Homo sapiens: one gene and its partners. The protein of the gene in region 3 interacts with the protein of the main gene of each other region in a pairwise test. Each region holds a gene or a part of one and is shown on either strand. Other genes may lie near its edges. The genes, in order: VEZF1, BRD1, RUBCN and FAM161A.

Region 1 (7,037 bases), on a different chromosome or scaffold from region 3:
GTAGTGTGGCTCTTCCCTTCCTCAGAGTGATCCCTTCTGTTTTTTTTTTTTCTTTTTTAGACAGAGTCTCTCGCTCTGTTGCTCAGGCTTGAGTGCAGTGGCGTGATCTCGGCTCACTGCAGCCTCCGCCTCCTGGGTTCAAGTGATTCTTGTGCCTCAGCCTCCCGGGTAGCCAGGACGACAGGTGTGTGCCACCACACCCGACTAATTTTTGTATTTTTACTAGAGACAGGGTTTTGCCATGTTGGCCAGGCTAGTCTTGAACTCCTGATCTCAAGTGATCCACCCGCCTCAGACTCCTAAAGTTCTGGGATTACAGGCATGAGTCACCACACCTGGCCAGAGTGATCTCTAAACCTCCTATACTTGGATAAAAATAAAAGGAATAGCATTCTTTTTTTTTTTTTTTCTTTTTTTGAGATGGAGTTTTGCTCTTGTTGCCCAGGCTGGAGTGCAATGGCATGATCTTGTCTCACCACAACCTCCGCCTCCCAGGTTCAAGCGATTCTCCTGCCTCAGCCTCCTGAGTAGCTGGGATTACAGGCATGTGCCACCGCGCCCAGCTAATTTTGTATTTTTAGTAGAGACAGGGTTTCTCCATGTTGGTCAGGCTGGTCTCGAATTCCCGACCTCAGGTGATCTGCCCGCCTCACCCTCCCAAAGTACTGGGATTATAGGCGTGAGCTACTGGGCCCTGGCGACATTCTTTTTCATACATTTACTGGCATTGGAAGAAAAGAATGCAGCAGTCCGTATAGGCTTTTCATCATTCCTCAGGTGCTGCTTGTTCCTAGCTTCCATCTGAAGATTTGTCATTATTTTAATAAAATGTTTTGGCCAGGTGTGATGGCTCACACCTATAATTCCAGCACTTCAGGAGGCCAAGGTGGGAGGATCACTTGAGGCCAGGAGTTTGAGACCAGCCTGGGCAAGATGGCAAGACCCCATCTCTACAAAAACAACAACAACAACAAAAAATTAGCCGGACGTGACAGTGCGTGTCTGTAGTCCCCGCTACTCAGGAAGCTAAGGTGGGAGGGTCACTTGAACCCAGGAGTTTGAGGCTGCAGTGAGCTACAATTGCATCACTGCACTCCAGCCTGGACAACAGATTGAGACCCCCATCTCAAAAAAAACAAAACAAATGAACTTTTGTGTTAGAATGGGGAGAGGGGACGGGCAATGGGGAGGAAAAAGTGTAGTGCTGTGATAATTGTATAGTGGGTTGAAAGTATATTATGAAGGGTATTTTACTTAGAGAAGGAGTAAAAATGTTTAAGTCATAGTAAAAGGACACTCTTAGATTAAAAAGAAAACACGGAGGAGGAGGTAAGGGGGTCAGCAGATAAGAGAGTAAAAATTCTTTGGTGAAAGCAGGTGGAGAATATCCTCAGCAATACTCCCAGCACCTTAAAGTGAATTGGTTTTCTCTCTCAATCTCTCTCGGTGTACTCCTCTATTTGGTATTGTATTTCAATTTGCTTGCACAATAAGACTTGGTTGTTTAGCTCATCTTCTGACTTCCATGAAACAAAATGTTATTGTATTCCCATTTGTAGCGTGAATCTCTCTCAAAAAGACCACTGATCTTAGAAACCTCTGTATTCATGTTAGTAAATGTCACATTTTAGAGGAGAGGAGACTCCTGACCTGAAAATCTAAGCTTGAATCTATAACGTCCTTTAAATATTAGGCCTAAATAAGGTAACATAAGTTTTCAAACCTGATCGACAATCATATTGTCTGGGAAGCTTTTTAAAAATACACATTTCCCAAGTTCCATCTAAATTTCACTATTGATTCTCCTGGAGTCCTTTGTTTTTGTTTTGTTGGGTTTTTTTTGTTTGTTTGTTTGTTTGTTTTGAAGTCCTCTAGATAGTTGATTTTGATAATCAGCCAGATTTGGGAATCCCTGATAGGGAGAATGGTGTGTGCCAAAGTTACATTGTATTGATCAAGTAAGGGCTGCTTGACTCAAGGGTCCCCCTGCGGTGATAAGACCTTTGTGGATCATATACAGATCTCTATCTTTAGTTCAAGTATATTTCTCCATTTTGATAGCCAAGTCACAGCTAGCCTACCCATCATTTTACTGCTGTTTTCTGGTGCTGAATTTTGTTGAGGGGTGGGTTGGGGATGTCACCTTGAGGGGAAGTATTTTTTAAGAAGTGTCTAGACCTGGCTCACACCTTAATCCCAGCACTTTGGGAGGCTGAGGTGGACGGATCGCTTGAGCCTAGGAGGAGACCAGCCTGGGCAACGTGGCGAAACCCAGTCTCTACAAAAAACACAAAAATTAGCTGGGCGTGATGGCATGCACCTGTAGTCCCAGCTACTTGGTAGACTAAAGTGGGAGGATTGCTTGAGCCTTGAGGGTTTGAGGCTGCAGTAAGCTTTGATCATGCTACTGCACTCCAGCCTGAGCAACAGAAGGAGACCCTGTCTCAGAAAAAAAAGTGTCCAGGTTTTGTTGGATAAGAAGGACCAGGGTCCTCTAACTCACTGCAGGGTCTCCTTGCCTAGCTAGTTCTCTTTGGTATGCTTGGTGGTATGTGTAATATGTAGAGTTAAAGATACTAGGCATAAAATAGGTGATTGTGTCAACATCAGAAACAAGAAGAAATGGGAGTGAGGAGAACATGAACTTATTGAGGAGTATTTTTTTCTTTCCTAATGTAGTTAAGAAACATAACCAGAAAGAATAAGATTATTTAACTGAAACATATTTCTAAAACTGAAACAAACATGATACTAAAATAGCTTGTTTATCATTCCCCAATTATGCATTTTTAAAACCTTCACAGAATGTGGCTTCATGTCTCAGGCTTTAACATACTTATTGAGTATGCACACCTCTCTCTGCTAGTTACAGTGTGCCTTACGAGAAGATTTTTCTGATTATCTGTTATTGTGTAACCATTGGCCCAGCTCTGTGTAAACAAGCTCTTTAGCCTGGCCTGCTGGAGGTTGGCTCTTCCCAAGAAAGTTTTTAGAACTCAGAGGAACTGCATGAAGTAGTAGTGAGAACACTTAGCCCTGCATTGCAGAAGTTAACTGATCCTCTCAGCATCACTGTGAGGTAGGTAAGTAAATCTGAACTTGAAACCTAAAGTGCAAGGCTAAACAAGTTGCTTAAGTCCTTGCAGGAGGTATAGCATCAGAAGGTGATTCATACACTGGGATCCCTGGCCCCCAGGCTTGTGCTCAGAAAGATCCTCTGTTCTGTTGACCGCTTGATAGAAAACTGGAATTTGATTTATTAAATGTTTGACATTTTTAATGAAAAGAAATTGATTCAGAAACTTTGTGAATTTTGCTCACTGTTTTGAGAATCTAAAGACCCTTTTTCTTCTTATTTTAGAAGCTGCTAACCTGTGCCAAACCTCCACGGCTGCTACGACACCTGTGACTCTCACTACTCCATTCAGTATAACATCCTCTGTGTCGTCTGGGACTATGTCAAACCCAGTCACAGTGGCAGCTGCAATGAGCATGAGAAGTCCAGTAAATGTTTCAAGTGCAGTTAACATAACCAGCCCAATGAACATAGGGCATCCTGTAACTATAACCAGTCCATTATCCATGACCTCTCCTTTAACACTCACTACCCCAGTCAACCTCCCCACCCCCGTCACTGCCCCAGTGAATATAGCACACCCTGTCACCATCACATCTCCAATGAATCTACCCACACCTATGACATTAGCCGCCCCTCTCAATATAGCAATGAGACCTGTAGAGAGCATGCCTTTCTTGCCCCAAGCTTTGCCTACATCACCGCCTTGGTAAACAGTATTATAAAATCAAAATATGGGTAAAAGTAAATATTTACCAGCAACTTAACTTTTAGTTGATTAAAGCAAAAAGTAAACCATGAAATTGGGAGATTTTATTACATTAGTTAATAAGAGTGTGGTAGCATTTTTCTCCAATTTGGCTGGGATTATTCAAAGTAGGGTGTGTATGTAACTTATCACTGGACCACTTTAGTTTAATCAGAAATTCCTTTTAGCTGACAACATTGCTTAAACAGGATAGTAGTTGGCAAGATGAAATGCCAGAATTAAAACCAATCATAAGTAGAACCCACTTCAAAATAAAAAAACAGCATTACTATTTCTAATCCCAAGGAATCACTTTATTGTAAACACTAGCAGAACTCTTCTCCCTATACAAGGTGGATGGCTGATTTTAACCTGAAATTTTAAATCCACAGATTGAGAGCTAGTGTAGAATTGTCTGTGTTTATTGTTTTTATGAGTAAATACATGCATTGTCATAATAAAATGCATTTCAGAGAATATGCATTTTACCTTTGGGAATATGTTAATTTCAGGCAGCATTCCCTATGGGAAAGGTGATACCAGCTCTGATATGCAAAGCATATGATAATTTATCATTCTAACTTCAACGTATAATAGGGATTGTGACCTGATATTTGGAGATGTAAATATTGCTCAGCATATTAATCCCGATGGAATATAGCATTGTAGTTGACTTTTTAAAAAAAAAAAAAATTTAAAAAAAATCTACAAATTGTGTTTTGCTAAGAAAAGCCTCAACTGACAGAGGAGAAGTCAAGTGTGTGGACAGGCAAGCTCCTAATAAACAGAGTCCAGTGGGATTCCTATTTAGGAGCCAAGGAGTACTTTGGAACAGTACAAATATATTGCTTTAAATTGGAAGACGCTGGAGGCACTGGGATGTGATATGCCCCTCTCTCTCCCAATCAGAGCCTGTTGATATTACAACAGGGACAGATGTGTTAGTTGCTCACTAGAGTTTATGTCTTATATTAAATTGTATACAGTTTTTATTCTAACCACTAACTAGGTAGTGTATGCCCCTTCAGAACATGCAGAGTGTATCTTTTTTTAAATTTCTCCTTCCGTTTCTTAAGTATTGCGCAGATTTGTTCAACTTTGTAAATATGGACATCACTTTTTTTTTCTTTGAGAAAACACTTGTATCAGCTTTGTGGTGTTTTCAGGGAGACAGCTGTCTGCATTCCCTGTAGAAACCCAGCAATGATTATGCACGTTGAGACATGTGCTTTTTATTTCTTAGCAAGATATTTTATCTCTGTACATAAAGTAGAAACCAAAAGCTAGGGAAACAGATACTCTTTACACCATCATGCCACGCATTGTTTTTAAAGCATTGCGTTAAAAAAAAAATTAACTAAACCAAGATGCTGTGATTTTTTAAGTTGCAATATGTTTTTGGTTTTTTTCATTTTTTAATCATTGCAGTTAAGAGAAATGGAAATTAGTTGTGTTAATCTTGCAGAATGTTTGCAGGACTGACTATCAAACTGGATGATTTCCATTTATACCCTACTGTGTCAGTTCAAGCATCAAAATACCTTGCATCTGAGACAGACTTCCTACATCAGGGACAGGTATCTGTGTGTCATTATACAAAACAGTTCTAGGGGGTTGAACTACATAGTAAAAAAATAAAATAAATAGTACTTAGTGTAAAATAATTTTATAAATGATCTTTTGTACTTTAGGACATTAAATTGTACAACTTTTGTATATATAAAAGCTTAGGAACTTTCTGTTTAGCAGGAAGGCAACACATTCCTACACTTTTAATGTATATGTTTGTTATAATGTCCATGTAAACATGCCCTATGTTTGTGCCTTTTAATTAGTTTGTCTCAATAAACAAAATGTAGAGAAAAATATGTAGCTATGACTTTGTTACAACTGTTCTTATCCACAGTACAAAAATGGTTTGTTTTTAATATGTAGAGCATTATGTGTGGACTACTGGAAGGACTCGTGTAGGGAAAGCCCAAGAATGACCTTGCTGAGGCCTGGATTGGGAGGCACAGTGGCCACATTTGGAGGAAGTTCACATTTCCTGGCATGCAGACCCAAAACTGGGTTCTGGCTCTGCCTGCTGGGATCTGTTATCTCTGGTGGGCTGGCAGTCATAATTCACAATTCAGACAGCCCAGGCTTCCTCCACAGTGGTCCAAGGAGCAGTCCTCAGTGGGGGCAGGTGTGGGCCCTACCCCTAAGCTAGAATGTGGTTGTCAGAACCCTGAAAGTATTAGTTCTAAAAAAAAAAAGATATATACTAGAAGTAATTGTTTTATCAATTCATTGTATAATAAACAGGAGTGAGACTTCATTGTATGACTTCAGTTAAAATACTATTTTGTATGCATTCTTTATTCACTTAAGAAGCTTGTCTGCAATAATAAAGCCACGTCATGTCTTCTTTTGGGAGGGAGAGAGTCGATGGCAGGAGGGGGTTTTGGGTGGGCCACTGAAAAGGGGTACCGAATAGGTTGTGTGATGAAATTCTGTGTCTTGGAACTGGAATTGAGTTTCGATGTTGATGAACTGATTCAACCAGGTGTTGAAGGCACGACAGCCACTGCTCTACGAAAAGGCAGAGTACGTTTTTCCCTTCTGGTTGTAACCTGGTTGAGAGCTTCCCCTTTATCAGATTGGCAGCTAAACAGTTGTATTAGATAATCCTTAAATCTGACATCCAGCCTGTTACGCTCTAGGGCTCGCTGCTTGGCCTGCGTTTGCTTTTTATTGTGTATCCGTTCCCCTCCTACGGTGTGCTCCTGAATGAAGGTTTCTATGTAAGCAGATGATGATTTTACCTGTCAATACCAGCACTGTATTACTAACATGCAAAATACTGCAGATTTATTTTGAAAATTAAAGTTAACTGGTCACAAATGTTATGATGGATTGTTTAATACCTCAGAAGCTTCATCAGTTTGCTCTGATAATAGAGGAATTTTTCAAGTACTTTCTTTTCAGGTGCGCACATCTCAGTATTGGGTTGGAGAGAGAGGGAGGGACCAGTATCAGGCTGGTTGGAGGGTGGAAGGGCACCAGACTGACTGCCCTTGGTAGGTGCACCCTCCCAAGCAGCTCAGGTAAGGCCCAGGAAGCTAGGATGGAGGCAGTGGCCACAGGTTTAGGTCCCTGTCCTACCCAAAAGAGAAGATGGGTTTAAAACATTTCTTCTCATGCTCTAGGACCCAATTTCCTTAGTTGAAA
Region 2 (3,128 bases), on a different chromosome or scaffold from region 3:
TCACACAGCTGGAAGGGGCAGGGGTGGTTCGGCGAGGGGGGCGTGGGGGTGGTCTGAGGAGGCTCACACAGCTGGGGTGGGGAGGCGGGGGGGGGTGCCAGTGACAGGTGGGGTTGTTTATGGGTGTGAGCCTCACAATGACCTCAGCGGGTCCTTCTCGTGCAGATCATCGACCCCAAGATGCCCCGTGTGCCTGGCCACCACAACGGCGTCACCATCCCGGCCCCACCCCTGGACGTGCTGAAGATTGGGGAGCACATGCAGACCAAGTCTGATGAGAAGCTGTTCCTCGTTCTCTTTTTTGATAATAAGAGAAGTTGGTGAGTTGAGAGGCCTTAGACTCCGGGGACCGGCTGGGGTGGTTGGGGGCCGTGGGCTCGGTGACCTGAGTGTCCCTGTGGTGAGCAGCGTCTTTGTCTGCTGGGCCCTGGCACAGCTAAAGTCGGAGGTGAGTGCTCCGCTGTTTGCCTGGTGGAGAAGGGCACTGCCCAGCCCCCTCGCCGGGACTGTGGGACGGGCACTGAGCACCGGGTCTGTCTCTGCCCGATGGCTTCCTCTCCCTCTCGCCTGAGCCCCATTGGTCTGGACTGTCTCTTCCCTACTCCTTACCCATGTGTCCGCTCCAGTGTTGGGGGTCCCTCTGCTGTGCTCCCGGACCCCTGTACTGCAGGACATGGCCCCTGCCCGGGCCTGGCCTCTGGCCCTGTTCTTAGAGCCTTCTGTCCCAGCATCATCCAGCTCTGCTCAGACATCCACCCCATCACAGGAGGCTCCCCCTGTGCCCTGAGCTGCTTTTCCCCAGAGCGTCTGGGACCCTCATGTGCCAGGGTTTAGACCCCAAGATCCCTCTGTGCAGGACACGCTGGCAGCACATGCCTCTGGGAGGAGCTGTGGCCCCGGCTGTGCCCTGCGCACGTGGCCCGGGCAGGTGCTTCCTGGTTCCCCGTGGAGCTGGCTGCACTTGGGACCTGGCGCAGGGGCTCGGGGCCACCTGCCTATGGTGTGCCTGGAGCAGGACTGGCAGCACAGGCATCCCTACCGTCTTTCTCTTCCTTGCCTCGACCTCTGCCTCTTTGGCCACGTGGCCACTGCTTCTTGTCAGGCCTTGAGCGAGGCCCACACCTTGTCCATCCGAGGGCCCCTTTGATGGGGTCTCCCCAACCACCGGCCTCTGCTCCAGGGCCCACCCTGACTCTGGGCTTGGTGTGTGCATGTCTTGTCACTAAGCAGGCACTGGGAAACGTTTTGGAGGTGGAGGAGGAGGTGATGGTTTTTATGCCTTACTTAGCTCCCCGTATCCCCAAGTCGGGGAGGGGAAGGGAGGGGTGCACTCCTGGCCTCGGGCCTGTCCCTGCACGGGGCCCAGCTGTCTTGGTGGTGCTGAGCAGGGCCCCTTTCTATCGGAGGGCAGTGAATTTGTTAGATGATTACATGGAGCCTGCTGAAATACCATGTGCAAGCAATGATTTTCCGCTTGTTTTTCCTTTTAAAAAGGCAGTGGCTTCCTAAGTCCAAAATGGTTCCCCTTGGTATTGACGAAACTATAGACAAGTTAAAGATGATGGAAGGGAGGAATTCCAGCATCCGGAAGGCCGTGCGGATCGCTTTTGACCGCGCCATGAACCACCTGAGCCGCGTCCACGGGGAGCCGACCAGCGACCTCAGTGACATTGACTGACGGCCCGGCCGCCAGCGCGGGTCTTGTCCATAGTGTTGATAAGCTGTACATGTTTGTATATTGTTCAAAACTTAACTTATTCTGATTTTTAGTTATAGCTCTTTAATTCTTTTTCCCCGGGGAGGGGGGAGGTTTTATTTCCAAGTTTTCTAGGAACCCATCTCCGTCTGGGCGCTGTGAGTGGGGTGGGCACGTCCGGGCAGCCCAGTGCGTCTGTCGCACGTCCCCAGGCCGTGCTGCTGGCGTCACTTTCTTTGATATGTAGCTTTTTCTTAAAGACTTTTGAATGTTTAATAATTTTGTAAATCATGCTCTTTACACAGAGTACCACTTATTTAATAAGACGGGATGTAAATTTACAATGACAAATGTGTATTTTAAGAAAGAAAATGACATTATTTTGAATGGTACTTTGTGGAAAGAGGGGAGAATAAAGTTATGCTGTGTACATCACTTGCAGATCACCAAAAACACTCCGCTGCCCGTGACCGCCGGTGGGTGTGTCCCCGCTCCCGTCGTCCCGCCCACCTCAAACCCCGCAGGTGTGCCTCCCAGCGGATTATTTATTGTAGAAAGTGTATTCATTTGCTTTATAATGAAAAATACATTTGCAAAGGTATATTGATATGCATTTTTATACAGGCACATAAAAATTCAACTTGGCTTGGGAGCAGAATGCATTGCATTGTATAAATGACTCTGGCCTGTGTGTACTTTGATTTTATAACTTGTAATCTTTTGTTTACAATGAGGGGCTTTCTGTAACTTGTTTTAATTTAGAACACTTTGGTAGCAATAGAAACTTTGGATACATTTTTGTATGGTACCTGTGATGTATATAGAATTAGTACTTTATTTTTATTTTTAAGAGGTAAAGCATTATGTTGGGGAAAGTAGGGTGGGTTTCCAAATTTGCATTTTTTATATTAAAAATAAAGTCAAGATTTGGACGGTGTGGCCATTTTATTCCTACAGCCCTAGACGGCTAGGTGAGCCCCAAGGACGGGTGGGGTGCTGGCTGCAGGGGGCGGGGACACGCCTTTATCTTGAAAACTGTCATGGGATGGCATTATTTGTTATTTCACCTGATCATATTTTTATTTTAAAACTTCAGTTACATAAAAGTTTTAAATGCTTTTTTTAAGCCTACACCGTTTGTAACATCTCCATAGAAACTTGGAAATCAAGTCTTCCTTAGATAGTTGCTGTCCTGCATCTGGCAGGTGCTTCCTATCTGTCGTGGCTCTCCTTCCCACAGCCAGCCCCGCCCGGCAGGCCCCTCCCCACCACGAGCAGCTGGTGGCCCCCAGGATCACTCACCGCCCACGCAGAAAGGAAGCCCACGCAGAAAGGAAGCGGGTGCAGGAGCCAGGTGGGGACAGGCCGTGGAGCACTCAGGGCTACCACCGAGAAGCCCAGCTAATGGCGGGTGCAGTTTGCACCCCTTCTC
Region 3 (7,037 bases):
CAGGGGTAAAATGGCAACAGTGATGACATGTTAGAGGCAAAACTGCAGACACTTCTAACATTCGGGGTAATGGCAACAGTGGTGAAATATTAGAAGCAAAGTTCCAATTTCACATATATTTCATGAGAACCTCTATGATCCCAGTTATGTGTTAGGCACTAAATGTTTTTTATATATGTATATATATACGTGTGTGTATATATATACACACACATATATGTGTGTGCGTATATATGTATATATATGTGTATATATGTGTGTGTGTATATATATATGTATATATATATAAGCCAGACAGAGTTACTGCCTAAGGGAGCTTACCATTTGAGAAAGGTTAAGATGTGGAGAGTGAGGGAGAGATTTGAGTCCTTTGTTTTGTGTTTGTGCATATGAGGGGTTGTGTCCCTGTGTGCCTTAGGATGCTCGTCTTCTCATTCACTGTTTTACACCAAAGCTGAGTTTGTCTTTCTGCCTGAGTTTGTAACACTTTGACCTTTTCAGTGCTATGCATAATGTTACTAATTCAGCCTGGTTTTGATTTGGATAGAGGCAAATTATAACCTGTGTTTAGAGCTTCACCTGCTCCTTTCTCCTGCATAGAGTGTGGCACCTGGCTGTTACCCTGAGAGCTTAGCTGGGAGCACCTTGTAATAGATTCCAGGTTCCCTTACCCACCCCGTTTCCATTGCGCTCCCCTTATCTCTGGTTTCCATGTAGATGCTGACATCAGAAGGAACACAGCCTCAAGCAGCAAATCCTTCGTTTCCTCCCAGTCCTTGTGAGTACTTTTTTTTACCAAAAAAAAGAAAAGAAAACCTTAGGATATGTAGAGAAACAAACCCAGTTCTTGGTGTATGGCTGGGCAAAGCCATCCAGATGTAAGAGGAGGCGAGGTTAAAGGGAGGGGCTTGCTGATGGTGCCGAGCCCACGGGAAGAAAGCAGAAGCTCTTTGGTCCCAGTGGGATGGGCTCTCGTGGAGGCAAAGCTGGAAGTGAGTTATTCCTTCTCTGCTGACTCTCATCATAACCAGAGGCCCCAGAAGGTCTCAAAAGAGAGCAGTGATGATGGTTTTTGGTTATGAAATCAAATTGAACAGATTCCACATCATAGACCCAACCAGGGGACACAGTAGCTCATTTGGGAGGAAAAATCGCTTTGTAGTCCACAAAGCAATTTTACTCACTTTGTTTTGTAAGCAGGCATTATAATCTCCATTTTGCTGTTAGAGGAGCTGAAGTTCAGAGAAAGGAAGTGACAGAGTCCTTCATTAGCAGTGCCGTGCAGTGGCAGGAAGTGGGGCTTGAACCGAAGTCTTAGGACCGTGAGACTAGTGGACTTTGACTGTCCCATGTGTGAGGGTGATGAGCAGGCCAGGGTGCTGCGGGTGTTCTTCCAGCCCAGAAGTTGCTGCGTGGGGGATGAGATCATGAAGGGAAGCCTCGCATCGCCCATCCTTTCCCTGTGTTCAGCCGTCCTTGATTCTCCCCTTTCCAGCTCCCACTGCTTCCTGCACTCCACGTCTGCTGAGGCGGTGGCCATGGGGCTCCTGAAGCAGTTTGAGGGGATGCAGCTTCCAGCCGCCTCGGAGCTGGAGTGGCTTGTCCCGGAGCATGATGCCCCTCAGAAGGTAGGTCCTTAGCTCTTCTTCCTACCCAGGGGCCATCGTGAGCCTCTGTGACCTTGTTTTCCTTCGTCACATGTCCCTAGTCTGGAATGAGCCTGGGTGTTCCCCCCTTACTCGTGGAAGCCATTCATTACAATGTGTCAAGTGATAAATGAACGAGTGAATGCTTGCTCACCTTGTCAGAGCAGAGATGACGGCGCGTTCGCGGTCCTTATTCACGTGACTGCTCGCCAGACTCAGTCATGTTTGGTTTGTGACCACCTCGGAGACACTACGCAAAAGTAAATCGCTTGGATTCTTTGCTCTGCAGTTGTCTTTAAGGCATGAAACACACTGGCACAGCAAGGGTCCTGGGATGGGTGCAGGGACAGCATGAGCCGTGGGGCCACTGCCCTGGTAGGCTGTTTCTGTTTGCTTCTTGGAACCCACGGCCCTCACTTGTAGTACCTTGGCGCCTCCTGGTTGTTTCTGAGGTTCCCTGAAGCCCTTATCCTGTGGTGTTCCTGAAATGTCTTTCACTCATTATGCTCTGTCATGGCCAAAAGGGTCCCGCATTTCTGTTTCTCAAGCCCGTCCGTGTGAACTTACCCCAACTGTGTTTTTCTCCTGCCCATCCCTGACTCACTGCCCATCTCACCAGATGACGGGCAGCACACTGACACGAGCTTACCCCAACTGTGCTTTCCTCCTGCAGCTCCTGCCCATTCCTGACTCACTGCCCATCTCACCGGATGACGGGCAGCACGCTGACATCTACAAGCTGCGGATTCGTGTTCGTGGCAACTTGGAGTGGGCCCCGCCCCGGCCTCAGATAATTTTTAATGTTCATCCAGCCCCAACGTGAGTGGCCAGTGTCTGTGCCCTTTGGAGCACAGATCCGTCCTCTTTGGATTGTCAGGGTTTTCGTCTCACCCACTTGTCCCTGCCTCCAGCTGTCCTTCCCACACCGTTCTCTTCATTTAAAGGCAGAGGGGGGGCGTCGTCCATTTGGTCCTTCGTTTCTTACTCTTAATTCCTGGAGCTAATTGGAAACGAGGCGGGTTTTGTTTTGCTGGCATTCCCAACCTGTAGCTTTCCTCCCAGTAGTTGTGTGGGCTTGCTGGTTTTTCTTCTCTTTCTAAGATAGATGGATGCTCTTCTCTCCTGTCATTCTCTCTCCTTTACCACATCTCATTCCTTATATTTGTACAGAATGTGTGGTTCCTTACTGGGCAGAGTGACTGCCTAGACCTAAATCTTATATGGAGTTAGCTCTCCCAATAGGTTCATTTTTGTCCAACTAAAATGTAGGTGAATTCCCCTCTCTTCCCATACTTAACTGGAGCTGTATGTATGTGTGCTCACTCCTTCACACCTCCAAGGTCTCACGCAGCTGCTCTGTGCCAATGCCCTGTCCTTACCCTTCCTCAGGAGGAAAATTGCCGTGGCCAAGCAGAATTACCGCTGTGCAGGATGTGGCATCCGGACTGACCCTGGTGAGTGCCTTCCCTTCCCACCATGCTGCCTCCAGAGGCTCTGTACCCTCCCCGACACGTAGGGAGAGGTGGCGTGTCAAAGGCGGTAGCAGGAGGTGGCGTGGCAGAAGTAGGGAAGGAGAAAGAAAGGTTCGTAGTAGGCAAGAGTGCTGGCAATCGGAGGGAAATGATTTCTGGGAGCACATGGCCAGGATTGTATCCTGTGGAAAGTTGGGTAGTTCCAGCTAGCTGGTAAGGCGGGATCTTACTATCTCCAGCTGGTTTTATTTCCTCAGGGCCTCCAAGGTAGGACATTATCACCCCAGGATCCACTATGTGGATTTCTGCAAGCTTTGGGGAACTCAGACAGAGGTTGCTGGAGGCCATTGGCTGTCCCTCTCTGCCCTTTCAAGGGAAAAGCAGAGCTGCCTTCCCAGCTTGTAGATGGGAAAGTTACATCTGGCTTTCTGGCTTTCCGGTTTTTCCAGATTACATCAAGCGACTGCGGTACTGTGAGTACCTGGGCAAGTACTTCTGCCAGTGCTGCCACGAGAATGCCCAGATGGCCATCCCCAGCCGGGTTCTGCGCAAGTGGGACTTCAGCAAGTACTACGTCAGCAACTTCTCCAAGGACCTGCTCATTAAGATCTGGAATGATCCTCTCTTCAACGTGCAGGACATAAACAGTGCCCTCTATAGGAAGGTCAAGCTGCTCAATCAAGTCCGGGTAAGACCTTGGAAAAGGCCACCTTAGAGTCTTGCCCTTCTCCTCCCCTCATCCCCTCCCCTCGTCCCTCCCCCGTCCCCTCCCCCCATCCCCTCCTCTTGTCCCCTCCCCCCATCCCCTCCCCTCGTCTCCTCTCCTTGTCCCCTCCCCTGGTTATATAGGGCTTCCCACAATTACCACACTTCTTGTTATCGCAGTGTCAAAGCTATAACCGTCTCTCCGTTCATGCCCTCACTATGTACTTTCTTAATCTCTTCCCATTTCCCAGGTTATCTGTCTAGTTGGAGCCTCAAACGTGGCAATGGCAGCTAGGAAGCTGTAGATAGCACTTGAGGGCAAAAGCAGAATTTCTTCCTTCACTAAAAACATTAGTGAATGAATGAGGAATCGGGTATCGAGTAAGAAATTGGAATTTCGGAGCACTCCTCTGCCCAGACTGCTTATGTGACTCGGGCAGACAGACCTGGCGGAGGGGCCTTCCCTGACTAGAGGGCACTCTGAAGCCAGTTGTCAGAGTGAGTTAGAGCAAGTTAGAGCATAGGACAGTCTGAAGCCAGTTGTCAGTTAGAGCGTAAGACAGTCTGAAGCCAGTTGTCAGTTAGAGCGTAGGACAGTCTGAAGCCACTTGTCGAGTTAGAGCGTAGGACAGTCTGGAGCCAGTTGTCAGTTAGAGCGTAGGACAGTCTGAAGCCACTTGTCGAGTTAGAGCGTAGGACAGTCTGAAGCCAGTTGTCAGTTAGAGCACAGGACAGTCTGGAGCCAGTTGTCAGTTAGAGCGTAGGACAGTCTGGAGCCAGTTGTCAGAGCGTAGGACAGTCTGGAGCCAGTTGTCAGAGCGTAGGACAGTCTGAAGCCAGTTGTCAGAGCACAGGACAGTCTGAAGCCAGTTGTCAGTTAGAGCACAGGACAGTCTGGAGCCAGTTGTCAGTTAGAGCGTAGGACAGTCTGGAGCCAGTTGTCAGAGCGTAGGACAGTCTGGAGCCAGTTGTCAGAGCGTAGGACAGTCTGAAGCCAGTTGTCAGAGCACAGGACAGTCTGAAGCCAGTTGTCAGTTAGAGCGTAGGACAGTCTGAAGCCAGTTGTCAGAGCGTAGGACAGTCTGAAGCCAGTTGTCAGAGCACAGGACAATCTGAAGCCAGTTGTCAGTTAGAGCGTAGGACAGTCTGGAGCCAGTTGTCAGAGCGTAGGACAGTCTGGAGCCAGTTGTCAGAGCGTAGGACAGTCTGAAGCCAGTTGTCAGAGCACAGGACAGTCTGGAGCCAGTTGTCAGAGCGTAGGACAGTCTGGAGCCAGTTGTCAGAGCGTAGGACAGTCTGGAGCCAGTTGTCAGTTAGAGCGTAGGACAGTCTGAAGCCAGTTGTCAGAGCGTAGGACAGTCTGGAGCCAGTTGTCAGAGCGTAGGACAGTCTGGAGCCAGTTGTCAGTTAGAGCATAGGACAGTCTGGAGCCAGTTGTCAGAGCGTAGGACAGTCTGAAGCCAGTTGTCAGTTAGAGCGTAGGACAGTCTGAAGCCAGTTGTCAGAGCGTAGGACAGTCTGGAGCCAGTGGTCAGAGCATAGGACAGTCTGGAGCCAGTTGTCAGAGCGTAGGACAGTCTGGAGCCAGTTGTCAGTTAGAGCGTAGGACAGTCTGGAGCCAGTTGTCAGAGCGTAGGACAGTCTGGAGCCAGTTGTCAGAGCGTAGGACAGTCTGAAGCCAGTTGTCAGTTAGAGCGTAGGACAGTCTGAAGCCAGTTGACAAGTTAGAGCGTAGGACAGTCTAAAGCCAGTTGTCAGTCAGAGCGTAGGACAGGCTGAAGCCAGTTGTCAGTCAGAGCGTAGGACAGTCTGAAGCCAGTTGTCAGAGCATAGGACAGTCTGGAGCCAGTTGTCAGAGCGTAGGACAGTCTGAAGCCACTTGTCGAGTTAGAGCGTAGGACAGTCTGAAGCCAGTTGTCAGAGCGTAGGACAGTCTGAAGCCACTTGTCGAGTTAGAGCATAGGACAGTCTGAAGCCAGTTGTCAGAGCATAGGACAGTCTGAAGCCAGTTGTCAGTTAGAGCACAGGACAGTCTGAAGCCAGTTGTCAGAGCGTAGGACAGTCTGGAGCCAGTTGTCAGAGCGTAGGACAGTCTGAAGCCAGTTGACGAGTTAGAGCGTAGGACAGTCTGAAGCCAGTTGTCAGTTAGAGCATACGACAGTCTGGAGCCAGTTGTCAGAGCGTAGGACAGTCTGAAGCCAGTTGTTAGAGCGTAGGACAGTCTGGAGCCAGTTGTCAGTTAGAGCGTAGGACAGTCTGAAGCCAGTTGTCAGTTAGAGCGTACGACAGTCTGGAGCCAGTTGTCAGAGCGTAGGACAGTCTGAAGCCAGTTGTTAGAGCGTAGGACAGTCTGGAGCCAGTTGTCAGTTAGAGCGTAGGACAGTCTGAAGCCAGTTGTCAGTTAGAGCATACGACAGTCTGGAGCCAGTTGTCAGAGCGTAGGACAATCTGAAGCCAGTTGTCAGTTAGAGCGTAGGACAGTCTGGAGCCAGTTGTCAGAGCGTAGGACAGTCTGGAGCCAGTTGTCAGAGTGTAGGACAGTCTGAAGCCAGTTGTCAGTCAGAGCGTAGGACAGTCTGAAGCCAGTTGTTAGAGCGTAGGACAGTCTGGAGCCAGTTGTCAGTTAGAGCGTAGGACAGTCTGAAGCCAGTTGTCAGTTAGAGCATAGGACAGTCTGAAGCCAGTTGACGAGTTAGAGCGTAGGACAGTCTGAAGCCAGTTGTCAGAGTGTAGGACAGTCTGAAGCCAGTTGTTAGAGCATAGGACAGTCTGAAGCCAGTTGTCGAGTTAGAGCATAGGACAGTCTGAAGCCAGTTGTCAGAGCATAGGACAGTCTGGAGCCAGTTGTCAGTCAGAGTGTGGGACAGTCTGAAGCCAGGTATCGAGTTAGAGCATACAACAGTCTGAAGCCAGTTGTCGAGTTAGAGCGTGGGACAGTCTGAAGCCAGCTGTCAGAGTGTGGGACAGTCTGAAGCCAGGTGTCGAGTTAGAGCGTAGGACAGTCTGAAGCCAGTTGTCAGTCAGAGTGTGGGACAGTCAGAAGCCAGGTGTCGAGTTAGAGCATAGGACAGTCTGGAACCAGTTGTCGAGTTAGAGCGTGGGACAGTCTGAAGCCAGCTGTCAGTCAGAGTGTGGGACAGTCTGAAGCCAGGTGTCGAGTTAGAGCGTAGGACAGTCTGAAGCCAGTTGTCAGTCAGAGTGTGGGACAGTCTGA
Region 4 (7,037 bases), on a different chromosome or scaffold from region 3:
CCAGGTTCACGCCATTCTCCTGCTGCAGCCTCCCGAGTAGCTGGGAATATAGGTGCCCGCCAGCACACCTGGCTAATTTTTTGTATTTTTAGTAGAGATGGGGTTTTGCCATGTTAGCCAGGATTGTCTCAATCTCCTGACCTCGTGATCCACCTGCCTCGGCCTCCCAAAGTGCTGGGATTATAGGCGTGAGCCACCGTGCCCGGCCTCTGAAGACTGATTTTTTAAAAGTTGTTTTCTTTAAGTTACCCCAAGTAGTACAACATTGTCCTCTTGTATGCTGATTTTAGCGTATTAAAAAAAATACCATATCTTCTGAGAAGCCTCCAGTGGGAAACAAAAATACCACATCTATAACTACTATTTATAATTGACTCTTCTGAATTTTTATTTTGAGAGAAGCTAAACAGATTATTTTCTAGAGTCTTATCAGATTGGATCTATAATTTTCTGTAGCAAATTTTTTCATTTTGCATCTGTTCCAGACAGTAGGCTAAATTTAAAACTGTGGTTGGCAGCCTTTTATGCATAGTATCATAAATAATTTCAACTGTTTCTCAACTGAGAACATAATAAAAATTTTATATTTATGGAGAAAATGGGGTTTTATCTCTTTAGTTGCTTCAATTAAAAGAACTGAAAGGGTAGGGCACGGTGGCTCATGCCCATAATCCCAGCACTTTGAGAGGCCGAGGCGAGTAGATCACCTGAGGTCAAGAATTCAAGACCAGTCTGGCCAACATGGTGAAACCCCGTCTCTACTAAAATACAAAAATTAGCTGGGTGTGGTGGTGTGCGCCTGTAATCCCAGCTACTTGGGAGTCTGAGGCAGGAGAAGGCAGAGGTTGCAGTGAGCTGAGATGGTGCCACTGCACTCCAGCCTGAGTGACAGAGTGAGACTCCGTCTCGTAAAAACAAACAAACAAACAAAAAAACTGAAAGGTATGTAAAGGGAGTGAGGGAGAAAGGCCAGTCAGACCCTTCTAAACATGATCTGTATGTTGAATAATTACAGCATTTTTTCTTCTTTGCTTTGTTGTCATCCTAAAGTCCCGGTCACCCATGGGAGCTACTGCTTTTGTGCCCACAGAAGCAGCTACCCTGAAAGTCCCTCCTACCCCCTCCCATGTCCTCTTACTCCCTCCCAAAGTCTTGCCCCACTGTGAGGAGGGCTTCTCCCTGGCTCCTTGATAAGCCACTGAGAACTTTGTCCCTGCCCCCATTTCCTCTATTTCCCTGCCTTCTCTCCACTGGCAGTCCTTGGAGCCACACTGCAGGAGCGCAGCTGGAGGGAGAGCATTGGGCTGTGGTTGCCTGGTTTACAGCAGGTAGAACCGTGTTCCTCTTCATCTCAGTTAAAACTTACAACTCAGGAGGCTCCTTATAGAAATACTTTGTAAAGGGTTGTTGGGTTCTATCCTATTATACCTTTTGTTGGTTGATCTGGGAATTGAACCATCCTTTATCAAATGGATTAAATAACATTTATTTTCTGACAGTTTGGTCTTGCTCCCTCTCGTTCTTAAAATATCACTGGGGAAAATGTACATAGCCCACAAATAACCTATAACTCATTCTATATGCATAGCCCATAATTAATGTATAACCTAACTAGGTGGACTCTTTAAGAAGCAGCATTTTGGATCAGTGTCAGCTTAATTTGTCTTTCAGCTCCAGTCACTATATATCAAGTGTTTTCTCCCCACCAGGCTGATTTGAACACCAGCTTTTCTGGGGTGGATGAACATGCACCGATAAGCTATGAGGACTTTGTGAACTTTCCTGATATTCACCACTCTAATGAGGAGTATTTCAAGAAAGTAGAAGAGTTGAAGGCTGCCCACATAGAAACTATGGCAAAATTAGAGAAAATGTACCAGGATAAATTACATTTAAAGGAAGTTCAGCCAGTGGTCATCAGAGAAGACTCTCTTAGTGACTCTTCCAGGTAAGCTTGTAACTCAATGTTATTTGTGGAGTATAAAATAAAATGTATCCTTAAAAGGACAGAACAAAGTTACTTCATAATATTTTCTCTTAAATAGCCCTTTGTACTCCCAACGATATACAGAGGTAGGATTTTATTCAAAATGTTTAATGGCTTATCAGCTTACTGGATGACCGTTTGCTTGAGGGTCATTTGGTGGCCATTTGGTCTTTTCTTTCTGACCCACCCATAGAACTGAGGGCATGTATCAAAATACTTAGTCTGTGCCATTTTAACTGGTAAATATAAAAGTTTAATTTTAAAAGCTCTTTATAATATGTGGATTAACATGAGCTCATTAAAGATCTAGTACAAAGAGTTCAGGACTAGGAGACATGAATCTGATTTATGTTTTCAAAATAGTCTGCAATTTCAAGACCCATTTCTGCTGTGAACTCACCTGCTCTGAGACTTACACATCTAGTCAGTCAGCGATGCTTGCATGTCTCCTTTGTGCCAGACTATGCCTGGGCGCTGAGGAGTCAAAAACAAGATGCCCTCAAGGAGCTTAGAGACTAGCTGAGAACCAAAAATTGCATTACAGCATGATGTAACAGAGTGTTACAGAGGAAGAAGCAGTTGGTCATGCCAAGCTTTCAGAGGGATGCAGGCCAGAATTTTCCACTAAAGTGTCACATCTGAGTTCAGTCTTGGAGGAGGAATAAGTATTGGCCTTCTAGGCAGCAGAAACCATGTATGCAAAGGCAAGATGGCATGAGAAATCATATCGTGTGTGAGGAACTTCACAGGACTGGATATGAATGCAGAATGGAGACTGGGGTAGCCAGTGGTGAGGGGTAAGACTGAAAAGATAGGCGCCAGTCTCGAAGGGCTTGTAATCTAGGCTTGACTTCGTAGCAGTGAGGAATTATCAAAAAGTTTCAAGCAGGGGAATGACATGATCAGATCTATGCTTCAGGACAGTGACTCTGGAAAGTGGGGAGAATTTAATAGAGGTTAGACACAAGGACCCTCTGCCATCTCAGGTTCCTTCCCTGTAAAATGAAGGAGTCAAAGTGGATAATTTATGGGCATTGCCCAGCTCTATTCCAAATAAAAGTGATGATTCTTACAAGCCCTGTCCAGCTCCTCGCTTCTGATTATACCCTGATCTTAGAAAATATGTAACTCTTGGCTGGGCACAGTGGCTCATGCCTGTAATCTCAGCACTTTGGGAGGCGGAGGCAGGCAGATCACGAGGTCAGGAGATTGAGACCATCCTGGGTAACTTGGTAAAACCCTGTCTCTACTAAAAATGCAGAAAATTAGCTGAGCATGGTGGCACAAGCCTGTAGTCCCAGCTACTCGGGAGGCTGAGACAGGAGAATTGCTTGAACCTGGGAGGTGGAGGTTGCAGTGAGCCGATATCACACCACTGCACTCCAACCTGGGCAACAGAGTGAGACTCTGTCTCAGAAAAAAAAAGAAAATATGTAACTCTTAATTTTTATATTTGGTCACATACAACTGAAAGTATAACATAGTTATTCTTCTCATTTAGATCTGTATCAGAAAAGAACTCCTATCACCCTGTCTCATTAATGACATCATTTTCAGAGCCTGATTTAGGCCAGTCTTCCTCCTTGTATGTGTCCTCCTCTGAAGAGGAGTTACCCAACCTAGAAAAAGAGTATCCTAGGAAAAACAGAATGATGACCTATGCTAAGGAGCTCATCAACAATATGTGGACAGACTTTTGTGTTGAGGATTATATTCGCTGTAAAGATACTGGCTTCCATGCAGCTGAAAAAAGAAGGAAGAAACGAAAAGAATGGGTGCCCACAATTACAGTACCGGAGCCTTTTCAAATGATGATAAGAGAACAGAAGAAAAAAGAAGAGTCCATGAAATCTAAATCAGATATCGAAATGGTACATAAAGCGCTCAAAAAACAAGAAGAGGATCCAGAGTATAAGAAGAAATTCCGAGCCAATCCAGTTCCTGCATCTGTCTTTCTCCCCCTTTACCATGATTTAGTCAAGCAAAAAGAAGAACGGAGAAGGTCTCTGAAGGAGAAAAGCAAAGAAGCTCTTTTGGCCTCACAAAAGCCATTTAAATTTATAGCAAGGGAGGAACAGAAGCGAGCAGCCCGGGAAAAGCAGCTGAGAGACTTTCTTAAGTATAAAAAGAAAACAAATCGATTTAAAGCCAGACCCATTCCTCGATCTACTTATGGTTCAACTACCAATGACAAGTTAAAAGAAGAAGAGCTCTATCGAAACCTTAGGACACAGCTGAGAGCCCAGGAGCATTTACAGAACTCATCTCCTCTGCCTTGTAGGTCAGCTTGTGGATGCAGGAACCCCAGGTGTCCTGAACAGGCTGTAAAGTTGAAGTGTAAACACAAGGTTAGGTGCCCAACTCCTGATTTTGAGGACCTTCCTGAGAGATACCAGAAACACCTCTCAGAACACAAGTCTCCAAAACTCTTAACAGTGTGTAAACCATTTGATCTTCATGCATCTCCACATGCATCTATTAAAAGAGAAAAAATTTTGGCAGACATCGAAGCAGATGAAGAAAATTTAAAAGAAACACGTTGGCCTTATTTGTCTCCAAGGCGTAAGTCACCAGTAAGATGTGCAGGTGTAAACCCTGTGCCTTGTAACTGCAACCCTCCCGTGCCCACGGTATCTTCCAGAGGACGAGAACAAGCCGTAAGGTAAGTAAGTAGGACGCAGTACTGACTGACTCATGGTTGCCAGATGAGTGTATGCAGCTCTGTGGAGTTTATGTTGGTAAATTTGAAAATACTTAGAAATTATTATTGTATCTATAAGATATTTTACTATATAATATATGATATTTTGTCAGAGGGTATTCTAAGAAATGAATATATTTTTCATTTATAAATTTTGGGGGATTAGAAAATAATAGTCTTAAGATTTCTAGTTTTACCTGGCTGGGCACAGTGGCTTACACCTGTAATCCCAGTGCTTTGGGAGGTCGAGGCAGGTGGATCACAAGGTCAGGAGTTCAAGACCACCCTGGCCGAGATAATGAAACCCCCATCTCTACTAAAAATACAAAAAATTAGCTGGGCGTGGTGGCGGGTGCCTGTAATCCCAGCTACTCAGGAGGCTGAGGCAGGAGAATCGCTTGAATCCAGGAGGCAGAGGTTGCAGTGAGCCGAGATCACGCCATGGCACTCCAGCCTGGGCGACAGAGCGAGACTCCATCTCAAAAAAAATAAATAAATAAATAAATAAATAAATAAATAAATAAATATTTCTAGTTTTACAGGTCAGATCCTTTTCAAAAGGTTACCTTTTTTCAAATTTTGAATTATCAAAATTCAAATTATCCCATGTTAAATCTTTGCTAAACAACATTCTGATTGGCTTAAAGTGGATTAAGCCTTAGTTTGTTACCCTCAGGAGATCACTTGAGGAAAAGAAAATGTTGGAAGAAGAGAGAAATCGGATCCTAACTAAACAGAAGCAAAGAATGAAAGAATTGCAGAAACTCCTGACAACCCGGGCTAAGGCTTATGACTCACATCAAAGTTTAGCTCAAATATCTAAATCCAGAGTAAAATGTCTCAGGTATCATGAAAAAATCTTGAATCTCCAGACCACTGGTTTTCAAACTCTTTTTTTTTTAATCAGTAGATAGTAAAATATGAGCAGATTGAAAATAGCATTAGTGTTTTAGCTTATGGATTTAAATTGTCATCAGTTACTTGTGTTCAGTGCACACACACTCACCTCATGGTGAGAACCAACATATAAACTCACCTTTATGGTGAGAACCATGAAGCTATGTTGATGAATACAGACATTTTCTATTGTGGCCTTAGTTAATGGTTATAATCTTATACCAATATCTGATCTTGTTCTTTATATTATTTTTGATTGCAGTAAACAGATATATCAAAGAGCTTTGTTCTAAGGTTTGGATGAAATCTGATAGCACAAATTAACACGTTAAACATCGGTTATGTGATGTGTTCATTAGCACATATGTTAATGTTTAGTAGTATGTGTTGCATTTTGTTAGTTTCAATATAAAAATATTCACGGAATTCTTAGAACCCCTTCACTAGAATTTTGCAGTACAAAGTTTGAAAACCAGTGTTCCAGATGTTGCACATAAAAATGTTGATGTTTAAGTAGGAAACTATCTCCCTCAAAGCCAGGTAAGTAATGTGATTTATTACTTTTTAATCTGATTTCTAAATATGCATATGTGCTTTTAATTACAATGAGTATTCTTTTATAATTTAGCTTTAATCCATTGATAAAGGGAGCTTAATTTGATGAACGTGAGCATAATGTTTCTTAGAAATAGATTACTTACCCTTAGGAAGTAAACTATTAATAGCTTTTTATTTTTTATTTATTTATTTTTTTGAGACAGAGTCTCGCTCTGTCACCTAGGCTGGATCCCGAGTTCAAGCGATTCTCCTGCCTCAGCTTACAGAGTAGCTGGGATTACAGGTGCTCACCACCACGCCTAGCTAATTTTTGTATTTTTGGTAGAGATGAGGTTTTGCCATGTTGGCCAAGCTGGTCTCAAACTCCTGACCTCAGGTGATCTGCCTACCTTGGCCTCCCAAAGTGCTGGGATTACAGGCGTGAGCCACCGTGCCTGGACAATAGCTTTTTCATAACACCAACTTGTGTATAATTAAGCCTAATTATCATTTAAAAGTATAATTATTTTCCCCAATCCATTAATCTTATTTATCTTGGTAGCAATTATATCTTACATAGAGAAAATAGTGTAGTTTAATTTATTATAGGATCTTGCTCAAACAGTGAGAACACTTACGGTAAATTTATATATTTTGGTTCCTGTTTCTCTTTATGTTGTATTCCCATGCTCTTTACTTCTCCTTTGACTTGCTCCCATTGAATTAACTTTGCCACTAACCTGTAGGAGATCTTATTTAGGGGAAAAAAATAACAGCAAAGGCTGGATGCCATGGCTCACATCTGTAATCCCAACACCTCAGGAGTACAAGGCAGGAAGATTGCTTGAGCCCAGGAGTTTGAGACCAGCCTGGTAAACATAATGAGACCCCCATCTCTACAAAAAATTTAAAAAA

Evidence for each region.
Region 1: the proteins of RUBCN (region 3) and VEZF1 interact in binary tests that used the Homo sapiens proteins (3 or more experiments, as listed by UniProt).
Region 2: the proteins of RUBCN (region 3) and BRD1 interact in binary tests that used the Homo sapiens proteins (3 or more experiments, as listed by UniProt).
Region 4: the proteins of RUBCN (region 3) and FAM161A interact in binary tests that used the Homo sapiens proteins (3 or more experiments, as listed by UniProt).

The regions. Positions count from the first base shown.
Region 1 is NC_000017.11:57,971,225-57,978,261, reverse strand, and holds the end of VEZF1 (vascular endothelial zinc finger 1), read left to right. Parts: intron 1-3,361; coding exon 3,362-3,789; 3' UTR 3,790-6,710; downstream 6,711-7,037. UniProt on the Homo sapiens protein: Possible transcription factor. Specifically binds to the CT/GC-rich region of the interleukin-3 promoter and mediates tax transactivation of IL-3.
Region 2 is NC_000022.11:49,772,783-49,775,910, reverse strand, and holds the end of BRD1 (bromodomain-containing protein 1), read left to right. Parts: intron 1-165; coding exon 166-320; intron 321-1,494; coding exon 1,495-1,678; 3' UTR 1,679-2,628; downstream 2,629-3,128. UniProt on the Homo sapiens protein: Scaffold subunit of various histone acetyltransferase (HAT) complexes, such as the MOZ/MORF and HBO1 complexes, that acts as a regulator of hematopoiesis.
Region 3 is NC_000003.12:197,677,898-197,684,934, reverse strand, and holds part of RUBCN (run domain Beclin-1-interacting and cysteine-rich domain-containing protein), read left to right. Parts: intron 1-717; coding exon 718-778; intron 779-1,495; coding exon 1,496-1,628; intron 1,629-2,319; coding exon 2,320-2,465; intron 2,466-3,035; coding exon 3,036-3,100; intron 3,101-3,567; coding exon 3,568-3,806; intron 3,807-7,037.
Region 4 is NC_000002.12:61,837,033-61,844,069, reverse strand, and holds part of FAM161A (protein FAM161A), read left to right. Parts: intron 1-1,709; coding exon 1,710-1,948; intron 1,949-3,488; coding exon 3,489-4,649; intron 4,650-5,364; coding exon 5,365-5,532; exon of another isoform or gene 5,533-6,125; intron 6,126-7,037. UniProt on the Homo sapiens protein: Involved in ciliogenesis.